Homo sapiens: one gene and its partners. The protein of the gene in region 4 purifies or fractionates together with the protein of the main gene of each other region. This does not show direct contact. Each region holds a gene or a part of one and is shown on either strand. Other genes may lie near its edges. The genes, in order: PNO1, ARL1, SUPT6H, RIOK3, LTV1 and TSR1.

What was found.
Region 1: the proteins of RIOK3 (region 4) and PNO1 purify together in Homo sapiens (affinity purification with mass spectrometry; one large-scale study listed by BioGRID and IntAct). This does not show direct contact.
Region 2: the proteins of RIOK3 (region 4) and ARL1 purify together in Homo sapiens (co-immunoprecipitation; one large-scale study listed by IntAct). This does not show direct contact.
Region 3: the proteins of RIOK3 (region 4) and SUPT6H purify together in Homo sapiens (affinity purification with mass spectrometry; one large-scale study listed by BioGRID and IntAct). This does not show direct contact.
Region 5: the proteins of RIOK3 (region 4) and LTV1 purify together in Homo sapiens (affinity purification with mass spectrometry; one large-scale study listed by BioGRID and IntAct). This does not show direct contact.
Region 6: the proteins of RIOK3 (region 4) and TSR1 purify together in Homo sapiens (affinity purification with mass spectrometry; one large-scale study listed by BioGRID and IntAct). This does not show direct contact.

Annotation. Positions count from the first base shown.
Region 1 is NC_000002.12:68,160,735-68,164,525, reverse strand, and holds part of PNO1 (RNA-binding protein PNO1), read right to left. Parts: intron 2,844-3,791; coding exon 2,760-2,843; intron 2,262-2,759; coding exon 2,201-2,261; intron 1,981-2,200; coding exon 1,863-1,980; intron 1-1,862. UniProt on the Homo sapiens protein: Part of the small subunit (SSU) processome, first precursor of the small eukaryotic ribosomal subunit.
Region 2 is NC_000012.12:101,392,465-101,395,334, reverse strand, and holds the end of ARL1 (ADP-ribosylation factor-like protein 1), read left to right. Parts: 3' UTR 1-2,219; downstream 2,220-2,870. UniProt on the Homo sapiens protein: GTP-binding protein that recruits several effectors, such as golgins, arfaptins and Arf-GEFs to the trans-Golgi network, and modulates their functions at the Golgi complex.
Region 3 is NC_000017.11:28,675,447-28,679,237, forward strand, and holds part of SUPT6H (transcription elongation factor SPT6), read left to right. Parts: coding exon 1-39; intron 40-710; coding exon 711-984; intron 985-2,268; coding exon 2,269-2,370; intron 2,371-2,629; coding exon 2,630-2,746; intron 2,747-3,098; coding exon 3,099-3,188; intron 3,189-3,374; coding exon 3,375-3,517; intron 3,518-3,791.
Region 4 is NC_000018.10:23,451,708-23,456,124, forward strand, and holds the start of RIOK3 (serine/threonine-protein kinase RIO3), read left to right. Parts: upstream 1-1,579; 5' UTR 1,580-1,732; coding exon 1,733-1,795; intron 1,796-4,417.
Region 5 is NC_000006.12:143,853,276-143,857,066, forward strand, and holds part of LTV1 (protein LTV1 homolog), read left to right. Parts: intron 1-3,791. UniProt on the Homo sapiens protein: Essential for ribosome biogenesis.
Region 6 is NC_000017.11:2,321,845-2,324,416, reverse strand, and holds the end of TSR1 (pre-rRNA-processing protein TSR1 homolog), read left to right. Parts: exon of another isoform or gene 1-42; coding exon 43-221; 3' UTR 222-543; coding exon of another isoform or gene 544-762; 3' UTR 763-1,071; coding exon of another isoform or gene 1,072-1,281; 3' UTR 1,282-2,021; downstream 2,022-2,572. Other genes in the region: SRR (serine racemase), read right to left, coding at 544-762, 1,072-1,281. UniProt on the Homo sapiens protein: Required during maturation of the 40S ribosomal subunit in the nucleolus.

The DNA of each region.
Region 1 (3,791 bases), on a different chromosome or scaffold from region 4:
GCGCCCAGACTATATGTGGTATTTTTATTTTTATTTTGTTAGAGTCTCACTCTGTCGCCCAGGGTTGAGTACAGTGGCACGATCGTGGTTCCCTGCAGCTTCAACCTTCTGGGCTCAGGTGATCCTCCCACTTCGGCCTCCCAAGTAGCTGGGACTACAGGTGTGGGCCGCCACACCCGGCTAATTTTTGTATTTTTTTGTAGAGAAGGGGTTTCACTATGTTGCCCAGGCTAGTCTCAGACTCCTGAGATCACGCCATCCACCTGCCTCAGCCTTCCAAAGTGCTGGGATTACAGATGTGAGCCACCATGCTTGGCCATATTTTTAAATGTGGTGTGCATTTGCACATTTCCAGTTCAAAATAGCTTCTCCCAAGGCTCCATATTTCTGACTCTAGGCTCAATCCATAAAAGATCAAACAATATAATTATATGCCTGGCTTCAGGTAAAGAGGGCCACCAACACAGTAGTATAGTTATCCTTAAAGTGTAAAGAATGTACAAAATTTAGGTTCTATATAATGAAGAGTCCTTCAGTATGGAGCAAAATTGAGATATTAAATGAAATTATTTCAGAATTTAGTCATAGGCAGAACCCTCCTCCTCTCAGTCAACTGTTCAGTTTCCCAACTTCATGGCATTATATAATCTCTGAGCCATCTGCCAGTAAGATCCCCAGCCTGGGCAGCTTCAACCTCAGACAGGGGTAATCCCAGCTTCACTTCTGGCACCTTTATTTTAAGCCCCTCTCATCTTGTTTATGTTCACATATAACTGCTCTCTAGTTTTGCCTAATGTACGATATTCCCCTCCTTTTATAAAAGGCCTTAACATATATATGTATATACATAAAGTAGATATATACTTCTAAAGACTCACAAGGGCATCTGAAATAGTGATTGCTTGTTCTCCCCTAGTGATTTAATAGATTCCCTTGAGTAAGTATGTATGTATGTATGTATGTATGTATGTATGTATGTATGTATTTATTTATTTGAGACAGAGTCTCACTCTGTCGCCCAGGCTGGAGTGCAGTGGCATGATCTCGGCTCACTGCAACCTCCTCCTCCTAGGTTCAAGTGATTCTCCTGCCTCAGCCTCCCGAGTAGGTGGGACTAAAGGCGTATGCCACATGCCCGGCTAATTTTTGTATTTTTAGTAGAGAGAGGGTTTCACCATGTTGGCCAGACTGGTCTCGAACTCCTGACCTTAGGTGATCCGCCCGCCTCAGCCTCCCAAAGTGCTGGGATTGCAGGCGTGAGCCACTGTGCCCAACCCGAGATATTATTTAAATCTTCACCTGTAATAATTTCTTTTAATAGCATTTCCTCATTGTTAAATGAGAAAAGAATATATAATTTCTTAAATTTTCTCAACTTAAGCCTCTTTCAAAGTTGGTGACCATCTATTCACCCAAAAGTATACAGATGATTCCCAACTTAACACGGTTCGAACTGGGATTTTTCAACTTTACAAGGGTGCAAAGGTGATACACATTCAGAATGCTCTACTTCAAATACACATACAACCATTCTGTTTTTCATTTTTAGTACAGTATTCAATATTCAACACTCTGTCATAAAGTAGAATTTGTGTCGGATGACTTTGCCCAACTGCAGGCTAATGTGTGTTCTGACCATGTTTATGATAGGCTATGCTAAGCTATAATGTTCCATAAGTCAGGCATATTAAATGCATTTTAGACTTATGATATTTTCAATTTATGATGGATTTATGAGGAGCATCTGCACTGACAAAGATTTAGCAGCAACATTATGCATAAAATACAACTGTTATGACTTTCTTAAAACAAAAGATCAAATATAAATTATGACAATAATTTTCTCAAGATCAGATACTTACACATCAGCCAAAACTATCCTTGTCCGTGTCACATTCTCTATGGTGAATTTGGTTTTTCCTCCTTTGCCAGCGATTCTTCCTATTGCCCTGGATAGATGGTCTCCCTTTAGGGGTTTAACTAAACAAGAAAAGCAAGATCTCAGGAGGCAAGCCATTCTAGTGTACCACCCATTCCACATAAAGTTTAATCATAAACTAAATTTCTCTAAAGGACACAAAGTGTATATATATATATATAAGTTGCTAAAAATACAGCTCAATTGATGCTATTAGAAAACTGAGAGTCACATCACAATACAAAGTCAGCGACACAAGAGCGCAGACCAACACACACTCACCATCTGTAATTTCAAAAGACTCTAGGAAGAGGTCATCCAACCTGATGAGGGCAAGTGCATCCTATAATATAAAAACAAACACCGTGAAGCCCCTTCCATTTGCACACCTGAAAAAGAGTAAAGTGCAAAGCACTATGGAACTAAAATCCACAAACTCTAGAGCTAGAAAGCTTTTTTTTTTCCCTTGGAGACAGAGTCTTACGCTGTCGCCCAGGCTGGAGTGCAGTGGCGTGATCTTGGCTCACTGCAATCTCTGCTTCCCTGGTTCAAGTGATTCTCCCACCTCAGCCTCCCAAGTAGCTGGGACTGCAGGCATGCACTACCACACCCAGCTAATTTTTTTGTATTTTTAGTAGAGATGGAGAGTATCGCCATGTTGGCCAGGATTATTTTGAACTCCTGGCCTCAAGTGATCCACCTGCCTCAGCCTCCCAGAGTGCTGAGATTACAGGTGTGAGCCACTGTGCCTGGCCTTTTTTTTTTTTAATGCCTAATCCATTGAAATGTTCACATTGAATATTTTTAAAGTCCCCATTTTAGATATCATGGAATTACTCACCTCCACCTGAAAGCCGAGAATAAAAGCTTTCACAAAATCAGCTGCTTTTGTCAGAGCACTAACATCCTTGGTTTCTTTACAAGTCTGTTAAAAAACAAAAAAGGGTACAAAATACCGTTGAGAATCAAACAGAAAATGTCCTAACAAAATACTGGAAATGTCCTTTCCCATTATTGGAGAATTTCCTTCACCACCACCTTTCCCTAATATATTCTGTATGACACAGGTTCTGGTCAGATAAGTGCTGTACTTTATTTGCAAAACAAAACGTTCCCAGCTCCAAAGCTTGGCTGTTCCACCCAAAGAGTGTCAAATAACTAACCGCACTATATGATCAGATTTTGGGGTTAACAGCAAGACTCCTCTGGCACAACCCAATCTCTCCCATTCTGAAGAACCTCTACCTTCTGTCCATCCCTTCAATGCCCAATGTCCTCTTCTCTTCTCTCTCAAGGCAGTCTTCCCTGGGATTCCTGACTTAATCTTCTTAGTTATCATTTATATGCTGATGTTTCTTAAACCAACAGCTCCAGGCCTAACTACCTGCATGCACTGATTGGGGAAATAAAGAATGAATGAAGCACTGAACCTGTCCTCAAAGTTTATTTGAGAAATGCAGAAATAACTGTTATTCATAAAAAGCCTACCACTGTAAATAACACGTACTATAAATAACATGCTTTACACACCATAACTCTAACCTTCACAACAACTTTGAATGTTAAGTGATATGACTACCTTCGTATGTGAGGAAACTAAAGTACTAAAAAGCAAAAAAGGTAAGATTTAAACACAGGTCTGATTTCAAAACTGTTATTTCCACTGTCCCATGCACATTCACAGTCTAGTTGAAGAGACCACGTATTCAACAAATGTAAAACCATATGGGCTTGTGCAATGGGAGAGTCCCCAGAGCTTTCCCATTTAAAACTAGACCCTAGTTCCAATCCTATATGTGACCTTAGACAAGTCCCATAGATACTTTAGGTCTTGAGTTTTCTCATCAGTAAAATGAGGAGGTCAGAGTAGAAG
Region 2 (2,870 bases), on a different chromosome or scaffold from region 4:
ATGAAAAAAACCTATTTTTGAATAGTAGTTGCAGCTTGTTTGTATAAATACTAAAAAATATCTTAACAGATTTTTTTCCCCTTAAAATGAATTATCTTTCCAAAGATTAGACTCAGTATGAGAGTAGGTGAGGAACATAGTTTGTGTAATATAATCTTTATTTGCTTACCTGACCACTTTTTATTAAGCTGTTTTGTTTAAAAGCTTTTGGTTATAGGCATGAATATTGTTTTGATGGTTAACTTCACTGACTTATCTGTAAGTGTCATTTTATAGTACTTTACAGTTGTCAAAAAAAATCTTACATATATTGATCTAGTTGATCGGTAGAGGAAGCTTGTGAAGTAGGTAGGACAGGTTATGATGTCTTCACTGTATGGACGTGAACCCAGGGTTCTAATAGGTTGGCTTGCCCAAGGTCACCTGCTAGCTTGTAAGGTAGGAATAGGGCTCAAAGTAAAACTTTTGGTTCAGAAGCTTGACTCATAAACTATACTATATATTCCCAAAAATGTCAGTATTGACAACACAGTCTAACTCTTAAATAAAATTATGCTAATTAGTTACATTCAAAATAATGTTTATAAATTTATTTGTCTATACTAGTAGAAGTGATCAGTGACATACTATAAATAATCCTAAATGGTTATATTTGATAGAATTCATAACACATTAAAGAGAAAATTTCACATTAAAGGAAGGTTTAAAAATCTATTTTCAGATTATAAAAGGTGTCTTTACTGGTTTTCATTCCTTTTATCTACATGTAATTGGACATGTAAACTTGTTAAAAATCAAAATCTTACTGATTGTACAGGGAGAAATTAAGCATTCTGTTTTAAAAATTAGGCTTATTGCTAGACTGTAAGTTTAAAAACAATTCATGTTCAAAGGAGCTTTTCAAATTACCCAGTCCACCACAGAATCAGCTAATGTGACAGAAGTAAATATAGTGCGTCATAATTGCTAAAAACAGGGTGAATTTCTTTCACTTAAGTTGGAAAACCAGCCTCTAAAAAATTAGGTGCTGGTAATGAGAGCTTAATACCATGGTTCCCTGCAGGTCTCAGAAACATTAGTAGTTCCTTTCTTGGCCCTCACTGTCCTTCCAGTGTTGGCCTCTGGCCTCTTCCCCTCACATTTATGTTCATTCTCCGGGCTTATATTCATTCTCTGCTGCTTTCTCCCTTCACCCGTGGGACTCTCACCCTTCTTGCTCATTCTCCAGCACCCATTCCTACTTTAGTCTCTTTGAAATCTTTTTTGGAGATTTTCCTTCAGCTACAAATGTTCCAGTACAACCAATATTACTCCTGAGGGGCAAAGACTTTTTCATATTTATGTCCCTAGTATCTGGTATGGCGCCTGGCATATGGCATTTCAGAATATGTTCATAGTTGAAACAGTAGGATAGATATTTGTCATCTTGACAAGTAGCCCTTTGCAATTTATACTTGAGTTCACTCCTGGTCAATGGCACATGGCTGGAAAATGCAGAAAGCAAGTTCACTTACAGCCTGAGGCTTATAAAGCTTGTACAGCTGCCTCCCGGCAGTCCAGGAAAACTGCAAAAAATGGGAAGTAAGGTCCTGGCAGGCAGACCCGGCATGTAGCCGCTGGCCATCTTGAATCCTAGGGCATGAAGTTGCCCCAAAGTTCAGCACTTGGTTAAGCCTGATCCCTCTGGTTTATCACAAAGAATAGGATGGGATAAAGAAAGTGGACACTTAAATAAGCTATAAATTATATGGTCCTTGTCTAGCAGGAGACAACTGCACAGGTATACTACCAGCGTTTGGATATTGATATATACATGGCAAATCTGAATATTGTTTTATGAGAGGCCTGGCAATGGGTAAAACACCAAACTTGAAATCAGAACATAGGTGCAAATGGCCACTCCTGTAGTTTCTTTTCTGTAAAATGGGATCTGGACGAATGATACCAAACGTTTCTTTCTAACATTGTATTTTATAACTCTGGCCTATGATTGTGTTGTGTCTTGCATTAAAAAAAAAAATTTGAGAGTGGTAGAATTACTTCTGTTATCTGAAATACCTGAGATGCACTTTAAACTGTTGAAATGTAAGCTCTGAGGGCAGGGACCGTATCTTATTTACTGTTAGTATCCGTTGCATCTAGTGTGGTGCACCTGGCACACAGTAGGCACTCAATAAATATGTATTGATTAAAAACAAAGACGTCTTCAATATGCCAGATATATTTGTCCTTTCTGATCTTTGCCTTAGTATTTTATTTTTAAAAATTTTATGAAAGCAATACATGCACTTAAGTCACTTAGAATTAATTAAAATCAGTCTTCTAAGATGGCCTCCTTTTGATAAATTACAAAGCCCTTAGAAGCGTGAGAATTCCCGTTTGAGATACACACTACATCAAAGCACAGATGCTGAAGTGAATGAACATTTGATTTCTGTGCCACATACTGTCATATTCTAAGCCCGTAATTACAAATTATAAAGCATGGACTTTTGTTTTTTTTTTTTTTTTTTTTTTTTGAGATGGAGTCTCACTGTCACCCAGGCTGGAGTGCATTGGCACGATCTCGGCTCACTGTAACCTCTGCCTCCCAGGCGCAAGCGATTCTCCTGGCTCAGCCTCCTGAGTAGCTGGGACTACAGGTGCCGTGCCACCACGCCCGGCTAATTTTTGTATTTTTAGTAGAGACAGGGTTTCATCATGTTGGCCAGGCTGGTCTCGAACTCCTGACCTCAAGTGATCCACCTGCCTTGGCCTCCCAAAGTGCTGGGATTACAGGTGTGAGCCACCACGCTCAGCTCAAAGCATGGACTTTGAATCTTGATTGTAGCACCTACATCCTGTATCACCCTTAGGCAAGTTATTTACTC
Region 3 (3,791 bases), on a different chromosome or scaffold from region 4:
ACCTAAGTGGCGGAAAAAGCTTCCTGGATACACAGACGCGTGAGTGGGGTCTGGTACAAGGTGGGGATAAAGTGATTGAGTGGGCCCAGTCAGGAAGGAGGAGATCAGAGGCCTTTGCCAAAAATGGGGCATTCCCAGCTTGCAGCCATTTTGCTTCCCTGCCTCAAATAACCTCTACCAGGCAGTGATTTCAGACTGCTCCCGGAAGCCCTGGGAGCTGTCTCTGCACTCTAGGACTACTGTGGGATTGGAGTAGAGTCCCACATGGGCAAGGCTCCAGCATTCCTCTTCCGCCTACAGCTCCATGTTTATTCAATTATATATATATTGACATTCTTAATATATTTTTGTTGGAAGACAAATGCCCGCATCACAATTTACAAATTTGAAAGCTTTTGCCCTGAGGGAATACTGTAATGCCTTAGCAGAAGATGGGTCCACTGAGCAAGACATAGACCCGTCTGCTCTGTTGCTATTTGATTACTGTCACTCGAAGGTGCCAAAGATGAGCTTTTTAATCTTCCATATACAATAGTTTGCCCAGAAATATCCGCCAATGAAGCCTTTCGTCCACAGTGAATATGGTTATTTTGTTTACCTTCCTCCTAACCCTCTCAGTTCCCTTGGGACAAGTAAAGGATCTATGCAAGGGCTGCATTTCTCTCCTCTCACCTGAACCTGAGCCACCTGCCTCTTGCTGCCACCTACAGGGCCCTGCAAGAAGCCCAGGAAATCTTCGGTGTGGACTTTGACTATGATGAATTTGAGAAATACAATGAGTATGATGAAGAACTGGAGGAAGAGTATGAGTATGAGGATGATGAGGCTGAGGGTGAAATCCGAGTGCGCCCCAAGAAGACCACCAAGAAGCGTGTGAGCCGTAGGAGCATCTTTGAAATGTATGAGCCCAGTGAGCTAGAAAGCAGCCACCTCACAGATCAGGACAATGAAATCCGAGCCACTGACCTGCCTGAGAGGTTCCAGGTAAAAAACCACCAGCCTCTGCTCTTCTACCAATCCATAATTACCTTGTAGCCAAGAAATATTCTAGCAAAAGTCTGGCATTGAGTATCCAGCACAGGTTTGAACCTCATCTCACCTGGGGCCTGGGAAATCCAGCTCTTAGAGAAGGGAAGATAGACTCTACCTTGCTTACGGTTCTAGAAATACTGTTTTCTTTAGAAATCTGTGAAATGCAGTCTGGGTGCTGTGGCTCACACCTATAATCCCAGCACTTTAGGAGGCCAGGGTGGCAGATTGCTTGAGTCCAGGAACTCAAGACCAGCCTGGGCAACATAGGGAGATCTTGTCTCTACAAAAAATACAAAAAACTAGCTGGTTGTGATGGTGCACACCTGTAGTTTCAGCCACTCAGGAGGCTGAGGTGGGAAGATTGCTTGAACTTGGGAGGTCACGGCTGCAGTGAGCCATCATTGCACCACTGCACTGCAGCCTAGAAGCAGACCCTGTCTCAAAAAAAAAAAACCATGAAATGCTTATGGCCAGGCACGGTGGTTCACACCTGTAATCCCAGCACTTTGGAAGGCCAAGGTGGGTGGATCACCTGAGGTCAGGAGTTCGAGACCAGCCTGGCCAACATTGTGAAACCCCGTCTTTACTAAAAATGTAAAAAATTAGCTGGGCGGCCAGGCACGGTGACTCACGCCTGTAATCCTAGCACTTTGGGAGGCCAAGGTGGGTGGATTGCCTGAGCTCAGGAGTTAGAGGCCAGCCTGGGCAACATGGTAAAACCCTGTCTCTACTAAAATACAAAAAAAAAAAAAAATTAGCTGGGCGTTGACAGCATGCATCTGTAATCCCAGTTACTTGGGAGGTTGAGGCAGGAGAATTCCTTGAACCTGGGAGGCGGAGGTTACAGTGAGCTGAGATCGCGCCATTGCACTCCAGCCTGGGCAACAGAGCGAGACTCCATCTCAAAAAAAAAAAAATCAGCTGGGCGTGGTGGCGGGCACCTATGATCCTAGCTACTCAGGAGGCTGAGGCAGGAGAATCATTTGAACTCCGGAGGCGGAGGTTGCAGTGACCCTAGATCGCGCCGTTGTGTTCCAGCCTGAGCAACAAGAGTGAGACACCATCTCAAAAAAAAAAAATGCTTATTTCATGCCAGAACAACACTGGTATGGCATTTGTAGAACAATACTGGAAATGTGCACTTGATGATCACACGTTTCTGTCCAAAAAGGTATGTTTTTCTTAAGTGAGACACAAGATAAAGTCCGTCTCACCCTGTTGTCTTATCCACTCCAGCTCCGCTCCATCCCAGTCAAGGGGGCTGAAGATGATGAACTAGAAGAAGAAGCTGACTGGATCTACAGGAATGCTTTTGCCACACCAACCATTTCTCTCCAGGTACACAAAAAAGATCCTTAGGTTTTGACATGAACCAAAAGACACTTCATCAAGATGGGGAGCTCTTCCTCCCCTATTTCATACATCCGTGTGCCTGGTATTAGAAAACTGTGTGTATGTAGTCCCAACAAGTGTGTGTATATGAGAAAAATTTTTTAGATTTCATCTAGAAAGGTTATCCTTTGTTATTAAGCAGTCTTGTATGGTAAGACAAACCAAGTAAACATTGTCTTGCTATTTCTTTATTTTCCTACTGTAGGAAAGCTGTGATTACCTAGACCGAGGGCAGCCAGCCAGCAGCTTCAGTCGGAAAGGGCCCAGCACAATTCAGAAGATCAAAGAGGCCCTGGGCTTCATGCGAAATCAGCATTTTGAGGTAACACCTCAAGCTCTGGTGGCCCATTGGTGAGAAATTTAGTTAGGGGATGAGGGAAAAGATAATTACCTAAATGAGGTGGGAGCCCCCTTCCCGTATCCCCTATCCATGACTCAACAAGTGTTAGGACCAGCAGAGACCCTAGTGATCGTAAGAACAATGCTACCCTGTCTGCAGCTTTATTTTCTCCTATTGAGGAAAGCACCAGGCCCTGGAAGGGCTGTGAGGGAGGCCAGGCTTCTGACTGTTGAATTTCCTGGAGCTGTTTCTCCAGGAAGTCATTATCTACTGACAGAGGGGATCTTAGCAAATCTGTCTTCTCTGAGTGACTGCAGTCTCTTTGCCATCCTAGGTGCCTTTTATTGCCTTCTATCGAAAGGAGTATGTGGAGCCTGAGTTGCACATCAATGACCTATGGAGAGTCTGGCAGTGGGATGAAAAGGTAATGTAGATCCGTGGCCCCCAAGAGGTGTGGGCCAGGGAAGGCACCATTACTACCAGGATACCACAAACCCAAACCCCCCAGGCCTGTCTAGTCCTCCCCCACTAGGTTTCTGGTAAGGATCAGAGCAGCCTTGAGTCTCCAGGGCTGAACACAAGCTCTCATTCCTGCCCTACTTCACCTTAGTGGACCCAGCTGCGGATCCGTAAAGAGAACCTAACACGGCTGTTTGAGAAGATGCAGGCTTATCAGTATGAACAGATCTCTGCTGACCCTGACAAACCTCTTGCTGATGGCATCCGGGCTCTGGACACCACTGACATGGAGAGGTAAAACATGCGGTGTTTATTCCATTATGGGAAGCCCTCAGACCCCAAGGCTGGCCCTGCAGGAGCACTGTTAAACCTTGGAGAATGTGTAGCACAGGGCCCCATCCCTTAGAAATCCAACTTGTCAACCAGGCACAGTGGCTCATGCCTGTAATCCCAGCAATTTGGGAGGCCGAGGCGGGCAGATCACTTGAGGTCAGGAGTTCAAGATCAGCTTGGCCAGCATGGTGAAACCCCATCTCTACTAAAAATACAAAAAATTAGCTGGGAGCAG
Region 4 (4,417 bases):
TTTCCTTTTAATCTTTTTTCTCTTTTTTTTTTTTGAGACGGAGTCTCACTCTGTTGCCCAGGTTGGAGTGCAGTGGCATGATCTTGGCTAATTGCAACCTCGGCCTCCCGAGGTCAAGTGATTCTCCTGCCTCAGCCTCCTGAGTAGCTGGGATTACAAGTGCGTGTCACCACACCCGGCTGCTTTTTGTATTTTTAGTAGAGATGGGGTTTCACCGTGTTGGCCAGGCTGGTCTCAAACTCCTGACCTCAGGTGATCCACCCACCTTGGCCTCCCAAAGTGCTGGGATTACAGGCATGACCCACCACGCCCAGCCCTCTCCTATTTTTTCCTAGCCAGAATTGAGAAGTCCATTTCTATTAATAGTTACACCCATTTTTCTTAAACTATTTATCGTCCAATTATAATCCTTTGAACACTAGGAAGGAACACAATTTCCACACACATTCACATATATAGGCAACATTTGCCAAGCACACATCTGCACCCTATCATATGGCTATAGTTTGCCTTATTGCAGTAGGGGTATTTGGAGGATTCAGAACATGTTTTCACCTGGAATGGAAAGGAGGCAAAGATTGTGTGCTAATGGAAATCATTAAGATCAGTAACCCAGGGCTCTCAAGTATGGACAGTTAGAGATACTGACTCGGAACTGAGATTTAGGGAAAACAGTTATTCAGTACCTATTTCTAGAATGTTTGAATATACAACATATAGACAGTGTATAGTTTATAGTCAAAATATAATGTACAGCCAGTCCAGTTCCCAAACCGATTGTCTGGGTTCACCCCTTATTAGCTTTGCCACTTGTTATCTGTGTGACCTCAACTAAATTACTTTACCTCTCTGTGCCTCAGTTTCAATATCAGTAAAATAGAGATAATGACAGAATTTAGCTCTCACGGTAATTTTGAGGACTAAAAAGTTAATGAAAGATTTGAACAGTGCATTGATATACTAAGTGAAATGCAATGTTTAGTTATCTTTTATCTGGTCATTTTATTAGAATCTCTACAAAATACAGAAACAAAAGTTTTATTATGCAGTCTTATTTTTGTTCACTGTTACGTAACACATTTTACACATTTTCCGCATTCCACGCCCCGCCCTTCAACAACAACCACCACAAACTCCGACCGTCCTTTCCAGGCCCTTTCCCTCTATAAACCTGCCGTTTTCTGTCTCCCAAGTCATCCCAGTTTAGAACTGCTCCAGGAAATAATGAATGAACAGAGAGAGCCTAGTTTGTTTATTTATTTACAATCCACTAGTCTAATCTAGTTTAGATCCAGCGGCAATTTTTGGGGTGCCAAGGAGGAAAGAAGGAGATGGCAGTGCGGGGACAGGGCAGAGCCTGGGCCAAAGGAAGCCACACCCAGTTCTTGCCCTGCCCTGCCCGACACAGGCAACGTGACCCCAAGCGACAGCCAGCTGATGCTTGCTTCTCCGAGCCCGGCGGTCAGCAGCCGGAAGTAGCCCGCCCGGGGGCGGGGAAAGGTGCCTTAAGGAGGAGCTAGGGGCGTGCGGCCAATTGCAAGCGACTGTCCTAGCGAAGAGGGCGGAAGAGGAGAGATCCAGTTCCGGACGCGGCCGCCGCCGTCGCCGCCATCTGTCACCTCCACTCCGGCATCAGCAGCCAGTCGCCCGTGTCCCGCCTGTCTCCTCGGCGGAGCCTGCTGCCCGTCCTGCCACCTCTCTGCTCTGTTCTTGTCTCTGCCTTCATTCCCGAATGGATCTGGTAGGAGTGGCATCGCCTGAGCCCGGGACGGCAGCGGCCTGGGGACCCAGCAAGGTAAGTGGCAGACGAGACTGGAGTACTAGCCTTGGTCACACGGGCTGGATCTCTCGGAAAGCTCGGAGAGGGCGGCTTCGTGGGCGATTCGGGAAGTTCTGGGGCGGGACCCCGCGGACCTCGGCAAGGGGGCACTGGCCGCGGGGGTGCCGGGATGGGGATGGAGGGAGCGGAAAGAGGGGCGGAGGGCGGCTGGATCTCCCAAAGGCCACCTTGAGTGGTTAGGGCTCTCTATTTCTTCAGCGTACTTTCTGTATCACCGTAGCATGTATTTGAGCAGGACTGGCTTACACACCCTGATGATACTGGAGGGGAAACAAGCACGATCTTGTTTTTCACTGGCCAAGTGAGTCAGCCGAATACACAGCTAGCCAGACAGAAAGTTGGTTTAGGAAGCTGTTTACTTAATTTGATAAGTGTGGTTATCCCAGTTTGGAAATGTCTTGTTTTTGAAGCAGTAAAAGATAAAACCCAGGCGCACCCTCCTCCCTCGACGCTGAAATTCAAGTGCGCACCACGGACTGTAAAGTGCTTATGAATTTCATTATCTGCCTAAGCTTTGACGTTTAAACTTTTTCATAGAGTGGCAAACTAAAGACCTTTATTTCACATTTGCTTTCTGGTTTCCAGGCAGGTCCTTTTCATGATACTTTGATTATATGGATGAAAACACTTTTCTGCCACTTTATGGAGGGTCTGCTTGAGAGCAGAGTGCTTCCATTGGGATTTTTTGTTCCACAAATTAAGGTCGTAAAGGAGTCTAGCTTTTTTAGCTTCATAGTTGTTCTTTACATGCTAACACAGAATATTTGTTCCCATTTAAAAGGTCTTATTAGATCTTCAGGCTAGGCCTTAACAGGAAAAGGGGTCAATAATTAGCTATTAAGTAACCAAAAGTTAATTTTGTAAAAGTTCTCGTACAGCTGTTGGAAGAATCTGAGATACTGCGTTGGCAAATGTGGTTAAGTCTGCATGTTATTTTGTGTATTTTTCCTTGAGACCTTGTTTACAAGGTCAAGATTAGCAGACATAAAAGGATGAAATCAGTAGACAGACTAGTATTATGAATATATACCCTGTATGTTAAAGTCCTTCAGTTAAGCATTGGCAGAGGCTGGTAAAAATGTCAAATGAGACAGACTCTATTCAGAATACATCCTAATCTCAGAACAAATTTCACTTACAAACTAATTCAGTAATAAACTATTTAACAGTCATATTTTTATTTAAGTGTACATCATCAGAACTATAAAATTCCATTTTCATTGTGCAACAAAAATGCTTCTGGGATTTATAGACGCTCTATTGGGAGGACAGTGTTTTGAAAGGCAAAACAATTAGAAACAGGCTGAAAGTACTATCATTAATCCTTTTTTTCTCTAACCTTTTGGAAAACCAAAGTGATTACAGAAGCCTACATGGAGGAGGTGAAGATTTGAGGAGGGTTTTGAAAAATGGAAGGATTCTCAAAACTTTTTAGTCAGGACTTCTTTCCTTCCTTCCTTCCTTCCTTTCCTTCCTTTCCTTTCCTTTCTTTCCTTCCTTTCTTTTCTTTCCTTTCTTTCCTTTTCATTTATTTATTTATTTGAGACGGAGTCTCGCCCTATCGCCCAGGCTGGAGTACAGTGGTTTGCTCCCAGCTCACTGCGACCTCTGCCTTCCGGGTTCAGGCAATTCTTGTGACTCAGCCTCCTGAGTAGCTGGGATTACAGGCGCCTGCCACCACGCCCAGCTGATTTTCGTATTTTTTTTTGTAGAGATGGGATTTCACCGTATTGGCCAGGCTGGTCTCAAACTCCGACCTCAAGTGTCCACCCGCCTCGGCCTCCCACACTGCTGGGATTACAGGCGTGAGCCACCATGCCCAACGTCTTTCTTTTTTTTTTTTTCTTTTTCTTTTTTTTTTTTGAGACGGAGTCTCGCTTTGTTGCCCAGGCTGTAGTGCAGTGGCGCGATCTCGGCTCACTGCAAGCTCCGCCTCCTGGGTTCAAGCGATTCTCCTGCCTCAGCCTCCCGAGTAGTGGGACCACAGGTGCCCACCACCACACCCGGCTAATTTTTTGTATTTTTAGTAGAGGCGGGGTTTCACCGTGTTAGCCAAGATGGTCTCGATCTCCTGACCTCGTGATCCGCCCACCTTGGCCTCTTTCTTTTTTAATTGAGACAGGGTCTCACTCTGTCACCCAGGCTGGAGTGCAGTGGCATGATCACATCTCACACTGTGCCTTGACCTTGCAGGCTCCCACCTCGGCCTCCTGATTAGCTGGACTACAGGCCAGTGCCACCACACCTAGCTAATTTTTGGGTTTTTTTTGAGACGGAGCCTCGCTCTGTCACCAGGCTGGAGAGCAGTGGCATGATCTCAGCTCACTGCAACCTCCGCCTCCTGGGTTCAAGCAATTCTTCTTCCTCAGCCTCCCAAGTAGCTGGGACTACAGGTGCATGCCACCATGCCCAGCTAATTTTTATATTTTTAGTAGAGATGGGGTTTCACCATGTTGGCCAGGATGGTCTCGATCTCTTGACATTGTGATCCTCCCACCTTGGCCTCCCAAAGTGCTGGGATTACAGGTGTGAGCCACCGCGCCCAGCCAATTTTTGTATTTTTGTGTAGAGATCGGA
Region 5 (3,791 bases), on a different chromosome or scaffold from region 4:
ATTGGTATATAGGAATGCTTGTGATTTTTGCACATTGATTTTGTATCCTGAGACTTTGCTGAAGTTGCTTATCAGCTTAAGGAGATTTTGGGCTGAGATGATGGGGTTTTCTAAATAGACAGTGATGTTAATCTGCAAACAGAGACAATTTGACTTCCTCTCTTCCTATTGGAATACGCTTTATTTCTTTCTCTTGCCTGATTGCCCTGGCCAGAACTTCCAATACTGTGTTGAATAGGATTGGTGAGAGAGGGCATCCTTGTCTTGTGCCGGTTTTCAAAGGGAATGCTTCCAGCTTTTGCCCATTCAGTATGATATTGGCTGAGGGTTTGTCATAAATAGCTCTTATTATTTTGAGATATGTTCCATCAATACCTAGTTTATTGAGAGTTTTTAGCATGAAGGGGTGTTGAATTTTATCAAAGGCCTTTTCTGCATCTATTGAGATAATCATGTGGTTTTTGTCATTGGTTCTGTTTATGTAATGGATTACGTTGAACCAGCCTTGCATCCCAGGGATGAAGCCAACTTGATTGTGGTGAATAAGCTTTTTGATGTGCTGCTGGATTTGTTTTGCCAGTTTTTTATTGACGATTTTCGCATTGATGTTCATCAGGGATATTGGCCTGAAATTTTCTTTTTTTGTTGTGTCTCTGCCAGGTTTTGGTATCAGGATGATGCTGGCCTCATAAAATGAGTTAGAGAGGAGTCCCTCTTTTTCTATTGTTTGGAATAGTTTCAGAAGGAGTGGTATCAGCTCCTCTCTGTACCTCTGGTAGAATTTGGCTGTGAATCTGTCTGGTCCTGGGCTTCTCTTTTGGTTGGTAGGCTATTGCTGCCTCTATTTCAGAACATGTTATTGGTCTATTCAGGGATTCCACTTCCTCCTGATTTAGCCTTGGGAGGGTGTATGTGTCCAGGAATTTATCCATTTCTTCTAGATTTTCTAGTTTATTTTCATAGAGGTGTTTATAGTATTCTCTGATGGTAATTTGTATTTCTGTGGGATCGGTGGTGATATCCCCTTTATCAATTTTTATTGTGTCTATTTGATTCTTCTCTCTTTTCTTCTTTATTAGTCTGGCTAGCAGTCTATCTATTTTGTTAATCTTTTCAAAAAACTAGCTCCTGGATTCATTGGTTTTTTTGAAGGGTTTTCGTGTCTCTATCTCCTTCAGTTCTGCTGTGTTTTAGTTATGTCTTGTCTTCTAGGTTTTGAATTTGTTTGCTCTTGTTTCTCTACTTCTTTTAATTGTGATGTTAGGGTGTCGATTTTAGATCTTTCCTGCTTTCTCCTGTGGGAATTTAGTGCTATAAATTTCCCCTTAAACACTGCTTTAGCTGTGTCCCAGAGATTCTGGTATGTTGTGTCTTTTTTCTCATTGGTTTCGAAGAACTTATTTATTTCTACCTTATTTTTGTTATTTACCCCGTAGGCATTCAGGAGCAGGTTGTTCAGTTTCCAAGTAGTTGTGCATTTTTGAGTGGATTTCTTAAACCTGAGTTCTAATTTGATTGCAGTGTGGTCTGAGAGACTGTTTGTTATGATTGCCATTCTTTTGCATTTGCTGAGGAGTGTTTTACTTCCAATTATGTGGTCAATTTTAGGATAAGTGCAATGTGGTGCTGAGAAGAATGTATATTCTGTTGATTTGGGGTGGAGAGTTACGTCACTGTCTATTAGGTCTGCTTGGTCCAGGGCTGAGTTCAAGTCCTGAAGATCCTTGTGAATTTTCTGTCTCGTTGATCTGTCTAATATTGACAGTGGGGTGTTAAAGTCTCCCATTATTATTGTGTGGGAGTCTAAGTCTCTTTGTAGGTCTCTTAGAACTTGCTTTATGAATCTGGGTGCTCCTGTATTAGGTGCATATATATTTAGGGTAGTTAGCTCTTCTTGTTGCATTGTTCCCTTTACTATTATGTAATGCCCTTCTTTGTGTTTTTTGATCTTTGTTGGTTTAGAGTCTGTTTTATCAGAGACTAGGATTGCAACACTTGCTGTTTTTGCTTTCCATTTGCTTGGTAAATATCCTCCATTCCTTTATTTTGAGTCTGTGTGCGTCTTTGCACATGAGATAGGTCTCCTGAATACAGCACACTGATGGGTCTTGACTCTTTATCCAATTTGCCAATCTGTGTCTTTTAATTGGGGCTTTTATCCCATTTACATTTAAGGTTAATATTGTAATGTGTTATTTGATTCTGTCATTATGATGCTAGCTGGTTATTTTGCCCATTAGTTTATGCAGTTTCTTCTTAGTATCGATGGTCTTTACTGTTTGGTACGTTTTGCAGTGGCTGGTACCAGTTTTTCCTTTCCATATTTAGTGCTTCCTTCAGGAGCTCTTGTAAGGCAGGCCTGGTGGTGACAAAATCTCTCAGCATTTGCTTATCTGGAAAGGATTTTATTTCTCCTTCACTTACAAAACTTAATTTGGCTGGATATGAGATTCTAAGTTGAAAATTCTTTACTTTAAGGATGTTGAGTATTGGCCCCCACTTTCTTCTGACTTGTACGGTTTCTGCTGAGAGATCCACTGTTAGTCTGATGGGCTTCTCTTTGTGGGTAACCCGACCTTTCTCTCTGGCTGCCCTTAACATTTTTTTCTTCATTTCAACCTTCGTGAATCTGACGATTATGTGTCTTGGGGTTGCTCTTCTCGAGGAGTATCTTTGTGGTTCCTGAATTTGAATGTTGGCCTCTCTTGCTAGGTTGGGTAAGTTCTCCTGGATAATATCCTGAAGAGTGTTTTTCAACTTGGTTCCATTCTCCCTATCACTTTCAGGTACACCAATCAAACATAGAGATTTGGTCTTTTCACATAGTCCCATATTTGTTGGAGGCTTTGTTCGTTCCTTTTCATTCTTTTTTCTCTAATCTTGTCTTCACGCTTTATTTCATTAAGTTGATCTTCAATCGCTGATGTCCTTTCTTCCACTTGATCAATTCGGCTATTGATACTTGTGTATGCTTCACAAAGTTCCCTTGCTGTGTTTTTCAGCTCCATCAGGTCATTTATGTTCTTCTCTAAACTGGTAATTCTAGTTAGCAATTCCTCTAACCTTTTTTCAAGGTTTTTAGCTTCCTTGCGTTGGGTTAGAACATGCTCCTTTAGCTCCAAGGAGTTTGTTACTACCCACCTTCTGAAGCATACTTCTGTCAATTCATCAAACGCATTCTCCGTCCAGTTTTGTTCCCTTGCCGGCGAGGAGTTGTGATCCTTTGAAGAGAAGAGGCATTCTGGTTTTTGGAAATTTCAGCCTTTTTGTGCTGGTTTTTCCTCATCTTCTTGGATTTATCTACCTTTGGTCATTGTTGTTGGTGACCTTTGGATGGGGTTTCTGTGTGGACGTCCTATTTGTTGATGTTGATGCTATTCCTTTCTGTTAGGTTTATTTCTAACAGTCAGACCCCTCTGCTGTAGGTCTGCTGGAGTTTGCTGGAGGTCCAGTCCAGTCCCTGTTTGCCTGGGTATCACCAGCAGAGGCTGCAGAACAGCAAAGATTGCTGCTTGTTCCTTCCTCTGGAAGCTTTGTCCCAGAGGGGTACCCGCCAGATGCCAACCAGAGCTCTCCTCTATGAGGTGTCTATTGACCCCTGATGGGAGGTGTCTCCTAGGCAGGAGGCACAGGGGTCAGGGACCCACTTGAGGAGGCAGTCTGTCCCTTAGCAGAGCTTGAGCACTGTGCCGGGAGATCCGCTGCTCTCTTCAGAGCCGGCAGGCAGGAACGTTTGAGTCTGCTGAAGCTGTGCCCACAGCCGCCCCTTCCCCCAGGTGCTCTGTCCCAGG
Region 6 (2,572 bases), on a different chromosome or scaffold from region 4:
TTCTACTTTTAATTTGACCGACTTGTTCTGATGTCTTTCTAGGTACCCATGGCCACATGAAATGCAGCTTTGATGGGAAGCTAAAATCTCAAGACACAGTACTGATGAACCTGTATAAACGAGTCTTCCCCAAATGGACTTATGATCCATATGTACCAGAACCAGTACCCTGGCTGAAAAGTGAGATTTCTTCAACAGTGCCTCAAGGGGGCATGGAGTAATGGATTCAAAGAGATTCTGTCTTACCGGTGCCAGTCAGTACTCCAGGGATGGGAGGCACAAGTTGTGATTGGGCAAAGTTTATTTTCTATGTCAGCCTGTCAGTCCACTGCCCCATTTTGCAAGACTTTTTTTTAGCCTTGACAAAATGTCTCAGTTAAGTATAAAAGTTTTTCCACTACTTAGTCCAAAAAAAACTATTAAATCTTAATGAAATAGCCACTCTCCATTAAGAATCTGATAACTAAGAGTTGACAATACTAGGAAACAAAATGTCTTCAGTATCTAAAGACACTGAATTCCCACCATTTCCTTTTCTGTAAATTAAACAGAAACAGACTGATAAGAAGCTGGCCTTTCAGCCTGCTTCACCCAAGTTATGGAGGAGGTTAAGTCTACATTTCCACCACTGAGCACAATACAAATGTTCTTTACTTCTGGGGAAACAGTTTGAAAATGTTGAGACAGCACAGCAGCCACTCCAACACCAGCTGTAGGTTCAATGAGTAGTTTCATCCTCTCCCACACCAGCTGGGTTGCACACTGTTGATATGGAAGGGAGTAGGAATTAGTGAAAGGGGAGTCTAGTTGGTTTACCTATAAAGTTCAGATGAGAATACGTGTCCAGTTTGAATTTTCTTATCACTGTGTACACACGCTTCCCAAAGCTTTTCTTTAATTCTGACTCTGCTTCTGTCAAGAGGGTTGTCATTAATACATCTAGGGTACCCTCCCATGTCATGAAGTTACCTAGTCAGGTTCCCGTGGGTCACTTGCTACTCCTAAGGGAAGTTTCTTCTGCCTAAGAAGTTACACCATGCTTTGCTATTTCTTTTCTTGCTGGAGCCTCACCTTAATTTCATCCTCTGTGACAGTGAAGATATCATCCACAAGGTCCCTGATAATAGGCCAGGTGTTCAAGCCAATGCTGGATTTGACACCATCTGCTATGGTTTCTGGAGGATAAAGATTGGGCATCAGTTTCCCCTTCAGCTTGGACTGGTAGCAGTCATCTGCATTTGAGGGTTCAGCAGCATATACCTTCACACTAGGTTTCAGAGCCTGGGAAGAGGAATATTAAGACATCTTAACAACAAACCACAACATTGCCTGCATGTCTAAAAGAAAATATGGGCCTGGTGTGGTGGCTCACACCTGTAATCCCAACACTTTGGGAGCCCGAGGCGGGTGGATCAGCTGAGGTCAGGAGTTCAAGACCAGCCTGGCCAACCTGGTGAAATGCAGTGTCAACTAAAAATAGGAAAATCAGCCAGGCGTGGTGGCAGACCCCTGTAATCCCAGCTACTCAAGAGGCTGAGGTAGGAGAATCACTTGAACTTGGGAGGGGTAGGTTGCAGTGAGCTGAGATCACACCAAAATGGGGTGGGGCGCAGTGGCTCACGCCTGTAATCCCAGCACTTTGGGAGGCCGAGGTGGGCGGATCACGAGGTAGGGAGATCAAGACCATCCTGGCTAACACGGTGAAACCCCGTCTCTACTAAAAATACAAAAAAAAAAAACAAAAAAAAACTAGCCAGGCATGGTGGCAGGCACCTGTAGTCCCAGCTACTCGGGAGGCAGAGGCAGGAGAATGGCGTGAACCTGGGAGGTGGAGCTTGCAGTGAGCCAAGATCGTGCCACTGCACTCCAGCCTGGGTGACAGAGTGAGACTCCGTCTCAAAAAAAAAAAGAAAATAGGCACAATAAGTAATACATTTCTGCCCAAGTAAGAGCCTTCCCTTTTGTGGATGTAATGAAAATATCTTCAAGCACTTTATAAATAAATTATATGTCTGATACTAGCCTTCCATTGCCTGGATCACATCTGATTGTCCTGGTAATTTGAGAAAAGGGTAGCCCCTTGGTATGGATAGTAGCTTGATGACATGGAATTCAGGGAAAAGACTATGATGGTGTCACTTGTAACTGCTTTTGTGCTGTAAAATTGTCATGGATTAAGAAGAGAGTTGGCTGGGTGCGGTGGCTCACACCTGTAATCCTAGCACTTTGGGAGGCCAAAGTAAGGACTGCTTGAGCCCAGGAGTTCCAGACCAACCTGGCCAACACAGCAAGACCCCATCTCTTAAAAAAAATAAAAATATTAGAAATAATAAATAGGCCGGGCGCAGTGGCTCACGCCTGTAATCCCAACACTTTGGGAGGCCAAGGCGGGTGGATCGCAAGGTCAGGAGTTCAAGACCAGCCTGACCAACATGGTGAAACCCTGTCTCTACTAAAAAAAATACAAAAAAATTAGCGGGGTGTGGTGGCTCATGCCTGTAATCCCAGCTACTCAGGAGGCTGAGACAGGAGAATCGCTTGAACCCGGGAGGTGGAGGCTGCAGTGGGCCAG